Regions from separate parts of the Homo sapiens genome. Here region 2 is linked to region 1. Evidence: fine-mapped expression QTL. A gene starts in region 1. The other region holds a variant in brackets. All regions are shown on one strand. Distances are from middle to middle.

Evidence for each region.
Region 2: its variant is fine-mapped to the expression of CLK4 in whole blood (INTERVAL, PIP 0.98).

The regions. Positions count from the first base shown.
Region 1 is chr5:178,621,699-178,630,269 of GRCh38, reverse strand. CLK4 (CDC like kinase 4) reads left to right here and starts at 3,220. Exons shown (of 13, transcript NM_020666.3): 1 at 3,220-3,324; 2 at 6,854-7,014. The coding sequence starts at 6,854. RefSeq lists enhancers at 1-184, 3,252-3,861, 3,594-4,274.
Region 2 is chr5:178,718,247-178,726,817 of GRCh38, reverse strand. It overlaps ZNF354A (zinc finger protein 354A), which reads left to right. Exons shown (of 5, transcript NM_005649.3): 4 at 1,347-1,442. Among named protein-coding and RNA genes, the nearest start is that of ZNF354A, 8.1 kb to the left of the region's middle. RefSeq lists a silencer at 2,559-2,759 and an enhancer at 2,975-3,475. The variant C/T (reference allele first, on the strand shown) is at 3,869.

The DNA.
Region 1 (8,571 bases):
TATACCTTTGTAAAGGTTACTCTATACGGTAATAAGCTTTTGTTTAATTTACACAATAATTTAGACTTTTACTCTAAAACCTGGCTCTCATATATGAGTGTTTTTGATGTCTGAAGTTAAGCATGTCGTATACATATCCTAGAATATGTGATAAGAATATTCCTTTGGTTGCTCTTCAAAGCTAAAAATTTCTTTTTTTTTTTTTTTTGAGACAGAGTCTTACTGTTACCCAGGCTGGAGTGCAGCGGCACGATCTCAGCTCACTGCAGCCCCGCCTCCTGGGTTCAAGCGATTCTTCTGCCTCAGCCTCCTAAGTAGCTGGGGGTACAGGCACCCGCCACCATGCCCAGCTAATTTTTGTATTTTTAGTAGAGACGGGGTTTCACCATATTGGCCAGGCTGGTCTCGAACTCCTGACCTCATGATCCGCCTGCCTCGGTCTCCCAAAGTGCTGGGATTACAGGCGTGAGCCACCGTGCCCAGCCAAAAAAATTCTTAAACTAGTTCTTTTTGTTTTTGCTTTTGAGACAGGGTTTGGCTCTGTCACCCAGGCTGGAGTGCAGTTGCACGATCTTGGCTCACTGCAACCTCTGCCTCCTGGGCTCAAACCATCCTCCCACCTCAGCCTCCCGAGTAGCTGGGACCACAGCCATGCACCACCATGTCCAGCCAATTTTTTTTCTGTATTTTTTGTAGAGATGGGATTTCACCATGTTGGCCAGGCTAGTCTTGAAATCCCAGGCTCAAGTGATCCACCCACCTCTGCCTGCAACCTGAGATTACAGGCGTGAGCCACTGTGCCCAGCCTTTGACTAGCTGCTTGGACACATCAGTTAACTCAAAGGTTTTTTTGGACATACTGTTCTTGTGTAGAGATGAAACCACTGGATTAGGCAGTGTTTCTGGTATTGGTAGTAGATTCTCAGAAATTTAGATAAACCTTTTCATTAAGTCTTGCCAGGTAACTGACTTAATAGGAAGGGTTGAGGCTGCCACGAAAGGGTGGTAAGCTAACTGGTGCAGTGATGCTGGGATGAAATGTCTACCTTTAACTTACTCACTTTGACCTTAAACCAACTGAGCAAAATGGCCCAAAGCAGCTTATGTAAACAACCTACAAATATTTACTGGGTTCTAGGCCTGAGATACCAAAGACAATATAAATCAGGTCCTTGTCTCCAAACTCAGCACAAAGCCACAGAGAGTGACTAGGGGCACCATAGTGCTGCATCACATAGCATAGAGGTGCTAGTCATTCTCAGCTTCCTTCTGATCACTACACACTTTTAAACATTAGACCTTTTGGTGGCATACAAATTAAAACACTAAAGCGAGATGAATGTAATTACAAAGCAGACTCTACTATTGGGTAACAGTGTGTGTGACGTCTATAATATAAAGGCCTCTGTAGGTGGCATTTCAAGTGGCTGCTTTTTAACATAGTGTTGCTTTTTTGAGCAGAATTGTGGGCTGTCCTGACCACACTTTCTTATAACCCCAGGAGGCAGGATCTCTCCTACTCCATGAAACAGGAGAACATTCTTTGGTGCCAGCTTGAATTTACATTCTCATATGCTGCAATTTGAGCCCCACTCTACCTTGTATTATCGCCCAGACCAGTCAGCTCAACATTCTATCTAATAGATTCCCTTGAGACGGGATGTGTAATCAATTGTAGAACCAATACATTTCACTCTTTGGGCAAAATCTGTTAGCATACCAGGTGGCTCCAAATACTCCACTATTTGAGGACTTCACATCTAACTGGAGTAGTCAGGAGCCGGGAAATGGGTGGGAACTCATGTCAGAGACAGCATCTTAAAGAAATGGCCTTTCAAGGATGAGTAAGATTTAAATTTGTAGATGCAAAAATGGTGGCTATTCTAGATGAAAATAATATCATTTGTTTCATTCTGTAGCATAAAGAGTTTACCCTTCCAGTTTTCCAAGTTTCTTTTCAACTTCGCTTCTTGGAGTGCAATCTCCATGAAAATTCAACTTACTTTTTGAAATGCTGTACAATCTCCGAGATTTATCTAAATTTACCCTACTTACCCAAACCAGATGGCACAAGTTTCTATCATGTTAGATCACTAAAGGTATTTCCGTTCCCTCCTTTCACCTAACAGGATAACAGGTCTCCCACATGCTACTGGGCTAATACCCGCAAGAGTTCAACCCTACCCTCCCAAATTTGATTTCTAGCTTTCCCTTTTATCCAGCGAATCCCCGTCAGAATACAGAAGCCAACCCCCACCCCGCCCGCCGTCCCCCCCCACGATCTTCAGTCTCACCTAAACCCTTTCCCTCACTTACGCCCTTCCTTGCTTTGACACCCTATTCTTGGTTCTCCTCCTCTGCTGATCATTCCTTCTCAGGCCCCTTTCCCTCTGGCCCTTGAGTGTTCCCCACAGGGCTCCGACTTTGACCCTAATATTTCTCATGTTACATACTTACACGGGGGAACTGCCTGAGGGTCCTCAGAACTGCAGAATACCTTATTTGAGGTAAGCAAGCCCCATAACGGACTATCACTAGCTCAGAGACATTTTTCAGCCTTGAATAAAATCAGCCCGCAGGGACAAAAAAAAATGGGGAAAACTTCGTTAGGGAAACTTCCAGCGACCTTAACTGCTCAGGAGGTAGGGATCCTAACAGGAAAACCTTGTCAGGAGTCTCCATTGAAACCTCCGGGTTTTTGTTTTGTTCTGAATAGGAGCACGTGCCTTGAAAAGATTAGCACCCCTTGAGCTTGTTTTCTGAGACAGCCTCTTTGTCCGAATCCACCTTAGACTGGAAGCGCCAAGTGGGCAGGACAAGCACCCAGTCCAGGGAACAGCCCAGGGACCAGCCAAGGCCCGCCCTAGGCGGTTTTGGGGCCGTTGTCGGGTGCCGGCTGCGGGAGTTGAGGTCCCGGGGGAGGGGGCAGACACGCGGTACACACTGAGGGCGGGACACGGGCGTTCCTTCCCGGTTCCACCCGAGCCCGTAGAGAACGTAAACACCCTCCCGGCCTAGAGGCCCCGGGACCGGGTGGGCGGGGGGGGGGGGGTGGAAATGCTTGGGCCGCGCAGCCGCAGTGTGGAGGCTCGAGCCCCGCTCTTACGTCACGTGGAGCCCCGCCCTTAGGTGGAGCGGCGGGAGCGCGCAAGGTTCTGTCACGCAGGCGCGTTCGCGCGGCGTAGGTGGTGCTAGAGGCGACTCGGGGGATTCTAGGGCGACGGCGCTGCCGCCATTTTGTGGGGTGTTTGTCGCAGCGGCCGAGGAGGGAAGACGGCAGTTTGGCGACATTTCTCGGCCGAAGGGCCATTTGCTTTTGCGGAGGTAGGGTTGCAGATGGTGTGTGCTGGGACAGGCGGCTGTCGGTCTTTAGGTCTCCGAGCCAGGTGTCGGAGAAACGACCGCGTTAGGGGCCTGGGCTTCTGGAGCTGAGTTGGGAGTTCTGCGAGGCGCTGCTCGGCTGGTGCACGCCGGCAGCACCGAAAGTTGCTCGGGCGTCGCGGTTCTGCCGCTGACCCTTCTCTGAGGGCCCTGGCCGCTCGCGTCGCGGCTCCGGAGGCCGTGGGCTCGCGGTCCCCTGCTGCCTGGCGAGCGCGGCTGTTGGTTAACCCTGTCGGGACCTCTTCCAGCCGGCGGGCGCTAGGACCTGTCGGGAGACCCTTCGAGAGCCGTCTCTGGCATTCGTGTTGTCGGAGATCAAGTCTTCCCCTGGATTCCTGGCCTGGGCCGTTTGTAGCGTTTCGGGGGTTTTCCAGAGTCAAGCATTTGCCCCTGTCTTGAGTGCGCCAAAGGCACTGGCCGGGTGCCCAGGAGCCGGGAGGTGGGGACCGGGCGTCCGTGCAAATCCAGGTGGTTGAGGGCAGTAGCTGCTTGTGAGAGGTGGAAATTTGCGGAGGCTAGTCCTCTGTGCTATGCTGAACACAACATTGTTGCAGCGAACCTGCGTTTCTGGTGGTTTTGCATCTTATTATCCCTGGTTGCCTAAATAGTCCAGATAGGCTTATCCGATCCTTAGGAAACCGCCCCGCAAACTGAACTCGCCAGCCACTTTGTCTTGCCTCATAGCTGTCCTGTGCGATTGTGCTTTTTACACACCCCTACAGGCTTGTAACCCATTAAATGCAGTCCTCTTGGAGCCATCCAATCCTAAACTTATAACCTGTTTCGATGTTTTTAAGCCATGTACGTAGCGTAAAGTTGTCAAGAACTACAGGATCTTAAGGGCAGTGGCGATGGATCTACATATGAGATCCATTGTGTCATTATTTTTTGAAAGATACCTACTCTAGCATGTGGGATGCTTTATTAGAGGCAGTGTCATGATTCTAGATAGCTTTTCTTTTTTATGTATGCGAAGGAACCTTACCACGTAGAACGTGGGTCGGGTGATCTTTGTGCCTCCAGATAAAATATTTTTGAACATTGCAGGGTGAGTGGGGGAGGTCAGAGGCTGGGACTAACAGCTGAATTACATTTGAAGTAGTGAACTTGAGAAGAATTTTGGACTCTCACAACGGAGCTCGTTCTTATTTTAATGTTTGCATATTAACTGATAATTTGAGAGTTCTGTTTTGCTGGAGGTTAGCTGGTTGTAAGCAGACTTACAGTAGAAGAGGAAAAAACAAAACTGAAGAAGATACATAAGTCTTGAAAAAAACTTCATAGTAATGGAGGGTCATAATAATAACGCTCGGTCATCAGATGTGATTTTGCTTGCTATGATTTAAAAATGCTTAACCAAGCTGAGTTCCTGATGTGGTTAAAATACAACTTTGGTATTTGACGGAACGCTTCAGAAGAACTGCACTTGAAATACACATTTTCTTTTTTTTTTTTTTTTTTTTTTTGAGACAGGGTCTCACTGTCGCCCATACTGGTATGCAATGGCGTGATCATGGCTCACTGCAGCCTTGACTTCCTTGGGCTCCAGTGATTGTCCCAGTAGGTGGGACTACAGGCTCGAGTCACCATGTGCGGCTAATTTTTTGTATTTTTTGTAAAGGCAGGGTTTCGCCGTGTTGCCCAGGCCAGTCTCGAATTCCTGGGCTCAAGGGATGAGGCGCCACTGCGTCCAGCCATAAATTTTTCTTGATAGCTCTAATGAAGAAAGTTTGTGTTTTGGCCTTTTGCCTCAAGTAAATGTGTGCTGTTATTCATGTCACGTTCCCATATGGAAGTGACTCCATTTGTATCAAACCGGAATGCTCACTTCCATTGAGACGCTAACAAGAGTTTTAGAATTGCTGTTTGGCCTGATCAGTGCCTTCTCTTCCTCTGTAAAGTGAGCTGAGAGCCACCTTAGAAGGATGCTTGATGGGTATAGAATTAGAATCAGCAAGAGAGTGAATTAAAATATCTGACTATCTGGTGGCAATCAGACTCTGATGGCGTGACACATACTTTCTTGTGGAATACCTCCCAGAAGAATTGAAGCTGCCTCACTCCAAAACCTTTAATCCATTTAAAATCATTTAAATTTCTGCTTGCATTTGTTTGCTTATTAGTCATTTGGGCAAGCTGAATGAGGTTAACTGAGTGGGTTTTACTCCATTTTAGCTTTTTTCAGCTCCTTGCTGAATTGTGAAATTCTTCTCTTTTTACCATTTAAACTCACCCTGTTTAGGAGAATTTGGACCTGACTGTTAAAACTTAACTGTTTTGGAAAATAATTAAGATGGGGAGAGACAGATAGGGGTTATATTGTTTGAGCGCAGATGCTGAGCCTGGAAGGAACCCAGGTTATGCACTGGAGTTTGTAAATAAAGTCAGCTGTCACCGTTATCGTTTGCTTTCACTGTGACCATGCTTCAGTGTGCATCCTTGTAGGTTGAGTTCTTTTTCAGAGTTACTCCAGATTTACTACAAATAGATTTTAAGGTTAAGAATAACTGCTGGATAAGAAAATGAACTTGTTGGATAGAGAAAATGAGTTCATAAAATCACATAAACATTTAAAAAAATTTTTTTTGTAGAGACAGTTTCACTATGTGTAGCGCAGGCTGGTCTCAGACTCCTGGGCTTGGCCTCCCAAAATTCTGGGATTACAGGCATGAGCCACCGTACCCGGCCTAAAATCACCTTTTTATATCTCTTCAGTTTCTCTGTTGAATATTGTGTTCTATCCACACAGAACTAATATTCTCAAAGCTTAGAGTCATTCTGAGATTTAGAGAAAAGAACTATGGAGAATTTGAGAAAAAGAAGCTTCATCATTGAATAGCTCTTTACCATTAAAACAAAGTCACCTCCCATATTTAGTATCCCTAAGTGTTTTTGTCTTGCACTTCAGTTATTTGTATTACAGTACTTTGCCAAAGCTGCATGACACTGATATTATTTCTCCTTAAATCAGCTCACATTTTAATGTTAACATTTTTAAAAGAAAATATGTCAATAACTTAATTGGAAAATCACTAATAAGTAGAAAGTAACAAAATAAGATAAATAAAAACGTTACTAATTTTTAGCTAAATACTCTTGTCTGCTGGAAACACTAGGCCTGAACCTTTTTATTTGCCCCCCCCGGCTTTTTTTTAATTTTTAAAAAGGCAGTTAGCAAGTGTTAGTTGAAGACAAGCACCAAGCTGAGAATTTGTCCTGGCTGTAATCAGAATTCAAAAAAAAAAAATGTCTTAAGGTATCAGTATTACCCACAATTTAATACTAGATCTCTATGCCTCTTAGCAGTCATCTGACATACCAGTGCCTTGGGAAGCATTACCACCTAAAAAGATTTTGGAGCCTGTAAGACCCTGTGTGTTGGGTTTTGATAACTTAAATAATATTAATATATAATAATTTACCTATCACACATCTGTAACCTCCACAATTCCCTTTTCATTTCTATCAACAGATGCGGCATTCCAAAAGAACTCACTGTCCTGATTGGGATAGCAGAGAAAGCTGGGGACATGAAAGCTATCGTGGAAGTCACAAGCGGAAGAGGAGATCTCATAGTAGCACACAAGAGAACAGGCATTGTAAACCACATCACCAGTTTAAAGAATCTGATTGGTAAATTAACTCTTGAACTACTAGCATTTTAGCTCTAATAGTTTTAAATGATTTGTCATTTGCTTATATAGCTTTCATCTGTCAAATTGTTTTATAATTCAGTCAACAAATATTCGTTTAGAAAATATTTGAGTACTTATTTTAGATAGGCGCTGAGGCTACAGCTGTAAATAAAACAAAGTTCTTATCCTTATGTATGTCTGTCTGCCTGGGAGTGGTAGGAGACAGTTGATCAGTAAGTGAATGTGAAATGTATTAAATAACATGGTGAGTCCCAACTGCCAGTAACGTGATTAGGGAGATGACACACAAAAAGTTAAGTAATAGTGATAGAATGCCCAATGAGTACCTTTAACTTGTATGTAGGAGGGAGATGGGTATGTTGTAGTGCTCATTGTTTCAGAAATAAGGTAGGGTTTTATAGGGGAGGAGTTATTCCAACAGAGAAAAGCAGCATGTATTATTAGTCACTTATACCATGTCGTACAGGTTATATTTGTAGATGAGGCCAAGGGATATGTTTGGGATTTTTAGAAGCTGGCTTTATTTAAGAACTATTCTTTTGCATAGGTAGTAGCTAGTAATTTGGGAAATGGCCTCAATAAAAACTTGCAACAGCATGTGTGCTGTTTTATTGTATTCTTACCAGTGTACAATTTGGAGGTAATATATTTATATAGAATTAAAGGAATCTTAAAGTTCTAAATGATTAAAGAAAGGCTAGGTAAGTTTTCACTCTTTCATTAATTTCCCTTTTTCGTTTGTTTTGTTGGTTCTGTTTTCTCGTTTTGTGCAGATGTTCCATTGGGACTGTTTACCAGATTGCTTTCTAAATTAGCCAGCTGGGGTTACTTTAAAAAACAGTATGTAATTTCTTTCCTTCTCCACGTTAACAGACTTGTTCTGCCAAACAGCTTATTTGTAGTCAGTGCAGACAAATCATGCTTCATACGCATTGTTATATAAGGGGAAGGGGGAAGGTTTATGACAGGATTTCAGAGACCAGAGATAATTAATAATTAATGTACAGTACACTAAAAAAAACCATCTGTACCCCACTATTAATAAATACAAAAAACCCTAAGGCTTAACGTCATAGTACTGGTTATTCATAGGATAATTATACGTTGTATATATAGAAAGGAAGTGATATGAGTGATGAACAGTTCATTTGTGCTCATAGTTAACTACGTAAACATGATACTGAGTCCAGTTAACCACCAGGCCAGTGCCTGCTTTGATATTTGTACCAGATGTGTTTGGTGGTCAGCGTTTACCATGATCCAGAATATTCTAATTTTTGAAGGTCAAAAACTTTGAGTGTTTTTATAAAATAACAAAAAACTGAAAAATGCAGAAAAGTATAAAGATGGTAATCTCTGTAGGAAATTAGTCCCCATTATTTAGCTGTAAAATTATAATTAAAAAAAAAATCTTTGTTTCTAAATCTTTGCCACTGATTATTTCCTGAAAATACACTCCAGGAAGAAGCATTTTTAAGTTAAAGCATGTGAACTCTTATTTCTTGCTACAGGTTCATATTTCTTTTTCTAGAGA
Region 2 (8,571 bases), 97 kb before region 1:
GTGTCTGGGAATGGAAGAGGTGGTATTGATAATCATTCCTCTCTCTCTATGTAATCACACACTCCAAGTTTGTCCATGATTCAGGCATCGTTTCCCAACGATTCTGTAGTTTGCTTGTCTCCCAACAGGGAGCTTCATTCAGCCTCTAGGCCTACCACCTGCCTTTCCCACTTGTCTTTTCCAGGGATTAGCAAACTTTTACTATAAAAAGCCATGTAGGCTGGGCATGGTGGCTCACACCTGTAATCCCAGCACTTTGGGAGGCCAAGGCGGGCAGATCATGAGGTCAAGAGATAGAGACCATTCTGGCTAACGTGGTGAAAGCCTGTCTCTACTAAAAAACACAAAAAAAATTAGCTGGGTGTGATGCCGGGCGCCTGTAGTCCCCGCTACTTTGAAGGCTGAGGCAGGAGAATGGCGAGGAGCTTGCAGTGAGCCAAGTTCCCGCCACTGCACTCCAGCCTGGGCGACAAAGCGAGACTCTGTCTCAAAAAAAAAAAAGCCACGTAGTAAAGACTTTAGGCTTTGTGGGCTGCGTAATGGTCTCCGTAACATATTTCTCTTTTTTTTTCCCACCATTCTTTGCACAGGGCCATACATAAACAGGCAGTGGTCTGAATTTGGCCCATGACCCGTAGTTTGCTGATCACTGCCATCCTTAAAAGGGAGTCACATAGGCCGGGCGCGGTGGCTCACACCTGTAATCCCAGCACTTTGGGAGGCCGAGGCGGGCAGATCACAAGGTCAGAAGATCAAGACCATCCTGGCCAACATGGTGAAACCCTGTCTCTACTGAAAATACAAAACTTAGGCGTGGTGGCATGTTCCTGTAGTCCCCGCTACTTGGGAGACTGAGGCAGGAAAATCACTTGAACCCGGGAGACGGAGGTTGCAGTGAGCCAAGATTGCGCCACTGCACTCCAGCCTGGCAATAGAGCGAGACTCCTCCTCAGAAAAAAAAAGCGGAGTCAGATAGTGTTTTCTCGTTTTAGACAAGCTACCTGGTACATAATCCTTTTCATAGATAACCTACTTAGAAATTCTAATCAGTCTGTATATCTTAACATTTCCTCTTCTATAGAAAGCTAGTGGTATCCTATTACCAATACTGCATGTTGATCATATTTTCCTAACCTATAATTAATTGTCCCAGAGTCATGTCCTACAAGTCACTTGTCTTTTCCTCACCCTACCGCCTTACCCCCTTACCTCCCAGGGGCACAACTGAAGCCCTACACAGAAGCTCTTTGTACCATCCTGTGAGTTCTGTATTTAAATTTGGGATAACTGTATCAATACAAAACCAAGTCTGATTTGTTTGGTTGTGGTTTTTTGTTTATGTGCAGGGCTCCCATTTACCAAACCAAAAGTGATCTCCCTGTTGCAGCAAGGAGAAGATCCCTGGGAGGTGGAGAAAGACGGTTCTGGCGTCTCCTCTCTAGGTAAGTGGGTGGCCCGAGGTGCGGAATGGCCGCAGACAATGGTCTGGTTAATGAGAGGAGGTAGGAACGTTGGTTGGGAAACTCCCTTGAGAATTCTCAGGCCTCAAGAAGTGATGGGGAAGCGGAAGCCCAGGCTCTTAGGCAGGATTCACTTCCCCATGAATCTCTCAGAATCTCTTTCTTACTCTTTCCTGTTGTTTTAGAATAGGGCTGTATTTTCATGTATTCATTCAGCAAACATAGTCTATTTAAGGAATTTCAAATAATCACTCTGGCTGAAGCTCAGGGTGTATTTGGGAAAGGAGGAGGTGAGGAAGGAAATAGCCTAGAAAGCTAGGGAAGGGCCGCGTGGTAAGTGCTTGGGCACGGTTCTAAGAGGTGGAAACTGTCCCATGGAGCACTGGAAATAATGGAAGGATTTGGGCAGGAATCATATGGTCCTTGGTATCTTAGAAAAGTTGGTGTGAATCAGAAACAGCTGAGTCTCCATCCGTGTAAGAACAGCTAAGGGACCTGTGAGCATCACCACCCTGAAAACAAGAGTCCAGGGACGTGGACAGAGCTCCCAAAAAGTTACAGAGCATTGTTAGGACGCCACCATTTATGTCTAATGAAAATTATGTGTATGTGTAATGTGCACATAAGCAGAGAGAAAGGTTAGGAGGACACACCTTAGCTGATGACATTAGTTACACTTGGAATGGGATTGAGAATGGGTCCATGGAAGGGGGCATTACTTACATGTAGTATTTTAATGTTTCACAAAGAGAATATATTTGTGACGTTCTTATGTGATTTGAATTCACAAGAATGGTCACTTTGGAAGCATCGTGTTTGAAAGTGAGGCAGAACGCTGGGCACGGTGGCTCACGCCTGTCATCCTAGCACTTTCAGAGGCCGAGGCGGGCGGATCACCTGAGGTCAGGAGTTTGAGACCAGCCTGGGCAACATGGCAAAACCCTGCCTCTACTAAAAATACAAAAATTAGCCAAGCGTGGTGGGGCAGGCCTGTAATCCCAGCTACTCCGGAGGCTGAGACAGGAGAAACACTTGAACCCGGGAGGCGGAGGTTGCAGTGAGCCGAGATTGCGCCACTTCACTCCAGCCTTGGCGACAGAGTGAGACTCTGTCTTAAAAAAAAAAAAAAAGGCGGGAAGCCTTGCAGAGCGATTGCAGTCATGGAGGGAGGCAGGAGGTGGAAGGGCCTGGATGAAGGCACTTGCCGTGAGTTCGTGAGGGAGGAGGCGGCGCCCACGTGATCAGGGTACAGGAGCAGTTGGGTGTGGGATGGATTTCACTTGAGATGTGAGTGAAGTCGTCAGGTGGGGAACCCTGGTGGGCAGGTGTGTAAGTGACAGGGCCGAGACTCAAGGGAGGTCAGGGAGCCCATTAGCATGATGGGCATTAGAAGCTTGGAGCTGGCCAGGTGAGGGGGCCAAGTGGAGGCCCGAATTTCAGGAAACAGCATTTGCGAGGTGCTTAAGCAGGAGGAATCTGACAGAGCCCGAGAAGTAATCAGAGTAGAGAAACGGGGAGGGGCCATCGTGGCAGTGGGGGACTGAGAGTGGTTGAACTGGGGGGGCTCTGGCTCTGGGGGATCAAGGTTGAACCCTCGCCCACAGCTTTGTATAGCATTGGGCAGAAAGGGACACAGGTCTCCTGCTTCTGGAGTGCACGATCTAGTGGGGGACAAGGTGAACACACTCATTGCACACAAGGCACAGAAGGACACATTCCAGTGAGGACCACGTGGGAAAGACACTCGGTGCTGTGAGAGTGCAGAGCAGGCAGGTGGCGTCAGCAAAGGCTTCCCTGTGGAAGGGCCTGGGATCAAAGGACTGAAGAATTGCTCAGGCCTAAAGAAAGGTGTTCATGAAGGTCCAGAGAAGCAAAGCCAGCGAGGAGAAGGTGGAGCACCCGAGAGAGAGCCACGGGCCCTGTCACAGGGTTTGGTTGGTGCTTGAGAGCCAGGCACAGGTTCTGAGGAGCCGTAAGTAGCCCAGGGCAGGCCTAGGCTGCTTTCTGCAGCCGCCAGCCCATGTGGAGAACCTGACGGCCACAGTGCAGGGCTTGTCAGGTCCAGAGGGCTCAGTGATGGCCCCTTATGCCATGGGCCCAGCAAGGAGCTGCAGGGCAGGCAGCCTCGGTCCCCACAGCCCCTGTGCTGGGGAGAGCTTTCTCCTCCCTGAAGAAAGGTGAGATTTTTTTATATGGGAACCACACTTGTTTATCTTTTTAACTCTCCTTTGGGAGAAATACACTACGTGGTCTGGCCCTGGCTACCTCTTCACTCTCAGCTCCTTCCACTCTGCCCTTCATTCGAGGCCTCTGATCACCCTTGGCCGCCCTGCAGTGTGTCATGGGGGGCGCCAAGCAGGCCCCCACTCAGGGCCTCTGCCCTGCTTTTTCTGTCTGGGACTGTTCTT[C/T]GTGGCGGTCATGCGTCCATGTGGCTCGCTCACTTCCTTGTGCTGCACAGGCTTCGGCTCACACAGGCACAGATCATCTGACACGCAGCCCTGCAGCCCCCACGCCATCTCCTCACCGTGCTTTATTTTCCCTCCTCGTGCTTAGCGCTGTGTAATAGATCTGTTTCTTCATGATCTGTCTCTGCCTCTGCATTGTAAGCTGCTGTGGGAGGGGTTGCCTGTTTCATTCACTCCTGTTTTCCAAGAACCTAAAACAGTCCCTGGCCAGGGTATGCGTCCAGTTGTATAATGAATGCACGAGTGACTTGGACTAGGTTAGTGGTGTTGGAGACAGAAAGAAGTGAACCAGTCCCAGGGATGTCCAGGAGATACAGCCAGCAGGACTGTTAGACATGGAAGATAGAGGAGATGGGGTAACAAAGAAAATAAAAGCAAACAAAAGGGAGATGGGGTTGTCAGGGATGCTTGCTTGGTTTCTGGTTTGTTCTGTGACGGTTGGTGATGTCATTCAGTGAGATAGGAACACTAGAAGGAGATCAGATTTGGAGATGATGTAAATTTGGTTTTAGATTAATTGAGCTGTTTTTGGTTGACCTAGTTATCCCAGTGGCGATGACAAGTAGTGTTGATTTCGGAGTACAGTACCTCAAAATGTAGACTGAGCTTGAAATGTAAATTTGGGAGAACCTGATCAATATAGGGTGATTGAAATAATGGGAGAGGATGAGTTGGCCTAGGGAGAGTGTTCACATTACAGTAAGAGTAAGAAAGAGCCTAAGACTGAATCTTGAGGAACTCCAGCATTTCAGGAAGCCAGGCAGAGAGAAATGAACCCATAGGGAAGACAGGTAAAAGCGTACTGTAAGGAAAATCAGGAGAGGCAGGTGACATTGGAGGCAAGGCTCATGATGGAATGGTAGCAGTAGATGGGGAAAAGTAGACGAATGTGAGGCAGATTTAGATGGCAGAATAAACAGGTCTTGGTAATTGATTAGATGAGGGGGCTGAGGGAGGGAGAATTATTAAGGATAACTCTTAAGGTTTTGATTCAGAGGTGGTGCCATTTACAGAGACAAGGGGTTGACCAGGTCGGAGGGAAGAATCGTGAGTGTGGTTTTAGGTGTGTTGACTTTGAGGCATCTGAACTGCTCTTTTGAGTAGGTCGTCTGTAAGGGGGAGTCGAGTATGGGAGATATCTTGCTTAGAGGATGAGTCTATGATTGAAGTTGCCTGTGGAAAGATGCAGAGTGAGAAGAACTGGGGGCCTAGAACTAAAGCTAAGGCACTCCAAGGATGATAAACTGTGGTACGTCCACACAGCTGTAAAGTGGAATGAGGAGGACCTCTGTAACTTCTACTATGGAGTGATCTCCAGAATGTGAGAATAAGTGCAGAACAGCACAGTTAGTACTGTTATCTAAGAAAGGTGGGTGGGAATACCAAGAAAAGTGTGTGTGTATTTACTTACACTGTCATGGAGCACATAATGTTTCAGTCAATGATAGCCTACATATATGATGATGCTCCCATAGATGATAATACTGCATTTTTCCTGTCCCTTTTCTATGTTTTAATATGTTGAGATGCACAAATACTTACAATTGTGTTACAGTAGCCTACAGTATTCAGCTAAGTAACATGCTGTATAGGGGTATAGCCTAGGTGTGTAGTAGCCTATACCATCTAGATTTGTGTAACACACTCTGATGACTGCACAACATCGCCAACAACGCGTATCTCAGAACATATCCCAGTCATTAAGCAGTGCAATTATTTTTTTTAGAAAGATAAAAGCAAAAGAAAAAAAAGGAGATCAATAAAAATGGTTATCTCTAAGGTGAAGGAAGAAAAAGGATGGAACAGGGGTAGAATCTATGACTTTTTGAGGTCTCAAAATTTTGACTTCAGAACTATAAAAATGGTTTATAAAATTATAAGACAAAATTAAACAAAAATGAGAAAGTACCCCCTACATATTGAAAGCAGAATGAAACAACCCTAATTGTGTTCCAGGTTGGTGGCTTAGCCACAAAAAGAATTATTTGAATTGCCTTTACATTGCAGCAGTTTGACTTATTAGTGTAGGTATTCTAGGGGCAAAAGTAACTGCAAGCAGTGGTGTTAATTTTGATGGATGTGCTAAGAGCGGTTTTGATGTTTTTACAGATGAAATGATTTTGCTGTCTGGGATGTGCTCTAGCATAACCTAGTGGACGAGATGAAAGGGTTTGTGTTAGTTTGCTAGGGCTCCATACTGAAGTACCACAAGCTTCGTGGCTTAAAACAGTAGAGATTTACTGTCTCACAGTTCTGAAGGTCAAAATCAAGATATTCGCAGGGCCCCGCTCCCTCTGAGACTCTGCATAGAATTCTTCCTTGCCTTTTGCTAGCTTGTAGCGATGGCCAACTTGGAGATCTCCGTGGCCTGCAGCTGCATCAGTCCTATCTGTGCCTCCGTCTTCACACTGTGTTCGCCCGGTGTCTTCACATCATCTTTCCTTCTGGATGCCTGTGTCCAAATTTCCCCAGTTTACGGGGACAGCAGTCACGCTGGATTAGGGCTCACCCCAATGACTTCATCTTAATTTGATTGAACGTGCAAAGACCATATTTTAAAGTAAGGTCACGTTCTGAGGTCCTGGAAGTTAGGACTTCTACGTCTCTCTTTTGAATGATGCGGTTCAGCCCATAACAAGGTTGTCAATAGAATAGTGTTGCTGGTTATTGAAACTGGCTGGAGATTCACTGTACAATTCACACTACTTTTACATATGCTGAAAATTTCTATGTTAAAAGCTTTAAAAATAAGAGTTACCACAACAACATTTCTAAAACAGCTTTTCTCTTTTCCACCAGCACAAAGATGATAGAGGATGTTTACAAATAGGCAGTACTACCCCCATCATGGTTTATGTGCAGTTCCCAGCAGATTGCTCCTTGAGTTCTCTGACTCTAGAAAACCTTGTGAGACTGCAAATGCAAGTGACATTTTTTTTTTTTTTTGAGACGGAGTCTCGCTCTGTCGCCCAGGCTGGAGTGCGGTGGCGGGATCTCGGCTCACTGCAAGCTCCGCCTCCCGGGTTCACGCCATTCTCCTGCCTCAGCCTCCCAAGTAGCTGGGACTACAGGCGCCCGCCACTACGCCCGGCTAATTTTTTGTATTTTTAGTAGAGACGGGGTTTCACCGTTTTAGCCGGGATGGTCTCGATCTCCTGACCTCGTGATCCGCCCGCCTCGGCCTCCCAAAGTGCTGGGATTACAGGCGTGAGCCACCGCGCCCGGCCGCAAGTGACATTTTTATAGGTGGAGCTTTTACTCTGACTAGCTATAGGATAAGGTGGGGGTGGATACTTCAGCAAATAAGTCTGGAAAACTGACTTGCATTCAAAGACTTGGGTGCTGCCTTCAGCCCTTGTGCTACCCCTTCATCTAGCCTATGGCGATTCCTTTCACATCCTATCTTATATGTCAATTCTTACGAAACACTCCAGCAGCGTCCTGCTGCACCCCTTTTCTACCTGCACCCTCACTATCTAAGGACAGTTGGATATGATTCTAAGCTCGTGTTCACGTCCATTTCTAGCTTATGTTTCTATTGTAGAAATTGTCACATTGTATTGTGATTACCTACTGATGTCTTCATTTCTAATGTCTGACTATAAACTCTCTGAAGAAATCAACTGTTCCTTTTAATTACTGGATCCGTAGGGAACTGTGGATCACCGATGCCTAGGATAGAGCCTAATACATAGTAGGTACTTTTTAAATATTTGATAAATTAATAAAGTAAGGCGTGACCAATGCTTTTTGAAATAACATGACCAATTCTGTGTATTAAGAGGGGTAAATCCAGTGGGAAATAATACTGGAAAGGCAAGAAACAGGTCAAAGGAATAACTTAAGATCAGGAGCAAGTCACTCTACAGTGAGGAGATCCTGAACTTAGACATATTCACGATGGCTTATTAGAGACATTTTAGTGATGAGATTTAAGAGAATGTGCAGCCTGGGCAACACAATGAAACCCTGTCACTACGCAAGATAAAAATATTAGCCAAGCTTGGCAGTGTGCACCCGTAGTTCCTGCTGCTCAGGAGGCTGAGGTGGGAGAATCGCTTGAGCCCTGGAGTTTGAGGCTGCAGTGAGCTATGATGGCACCAGTGCATTTCAGCCTGGGCAACAGAGCAAGACCCTGTCTCTCAAAAAACAAAAAAATGAAGATTTTGATGACTGCCTAGGGAAGAGAAATTCTAAGATAAAACTAAGAATTTACGGTAAATTAACTGAAGAGATGATGGTGTCATTTTGAACTGGAAAACATATAAAAAAGGTTTGAAAAGGAATGCTCTGGGTTCAGATTTGGACAGGCTGAATTTAAAAAGAAAGATACACAAGTGGAAATTCTAACCGGCAGTTGGAAAGACCTCTGTAAAGTATTTTTCAGGATAGTCGTACACATAAGAGGTGTGGGAGTAAATGAAATCATCCAGGGAGATAGGGTTGAAGAAACACTCTCTGGGTGTAGTGAGAGTCCAGGTGGAAGAGTCTAGACCTGATAACAGGAAGTGGTCAGGGCAGTGGCCATCAGCAAGATGATTCTGGCTTCTCAACTTCTGACCTAGGTCTTCACCTTGTTTAACAGGTAGCTGAGGACTGGGCTTGATTCTAGGAGGAAGCAAAGGTTGAACTGCACCTCAGGAGAC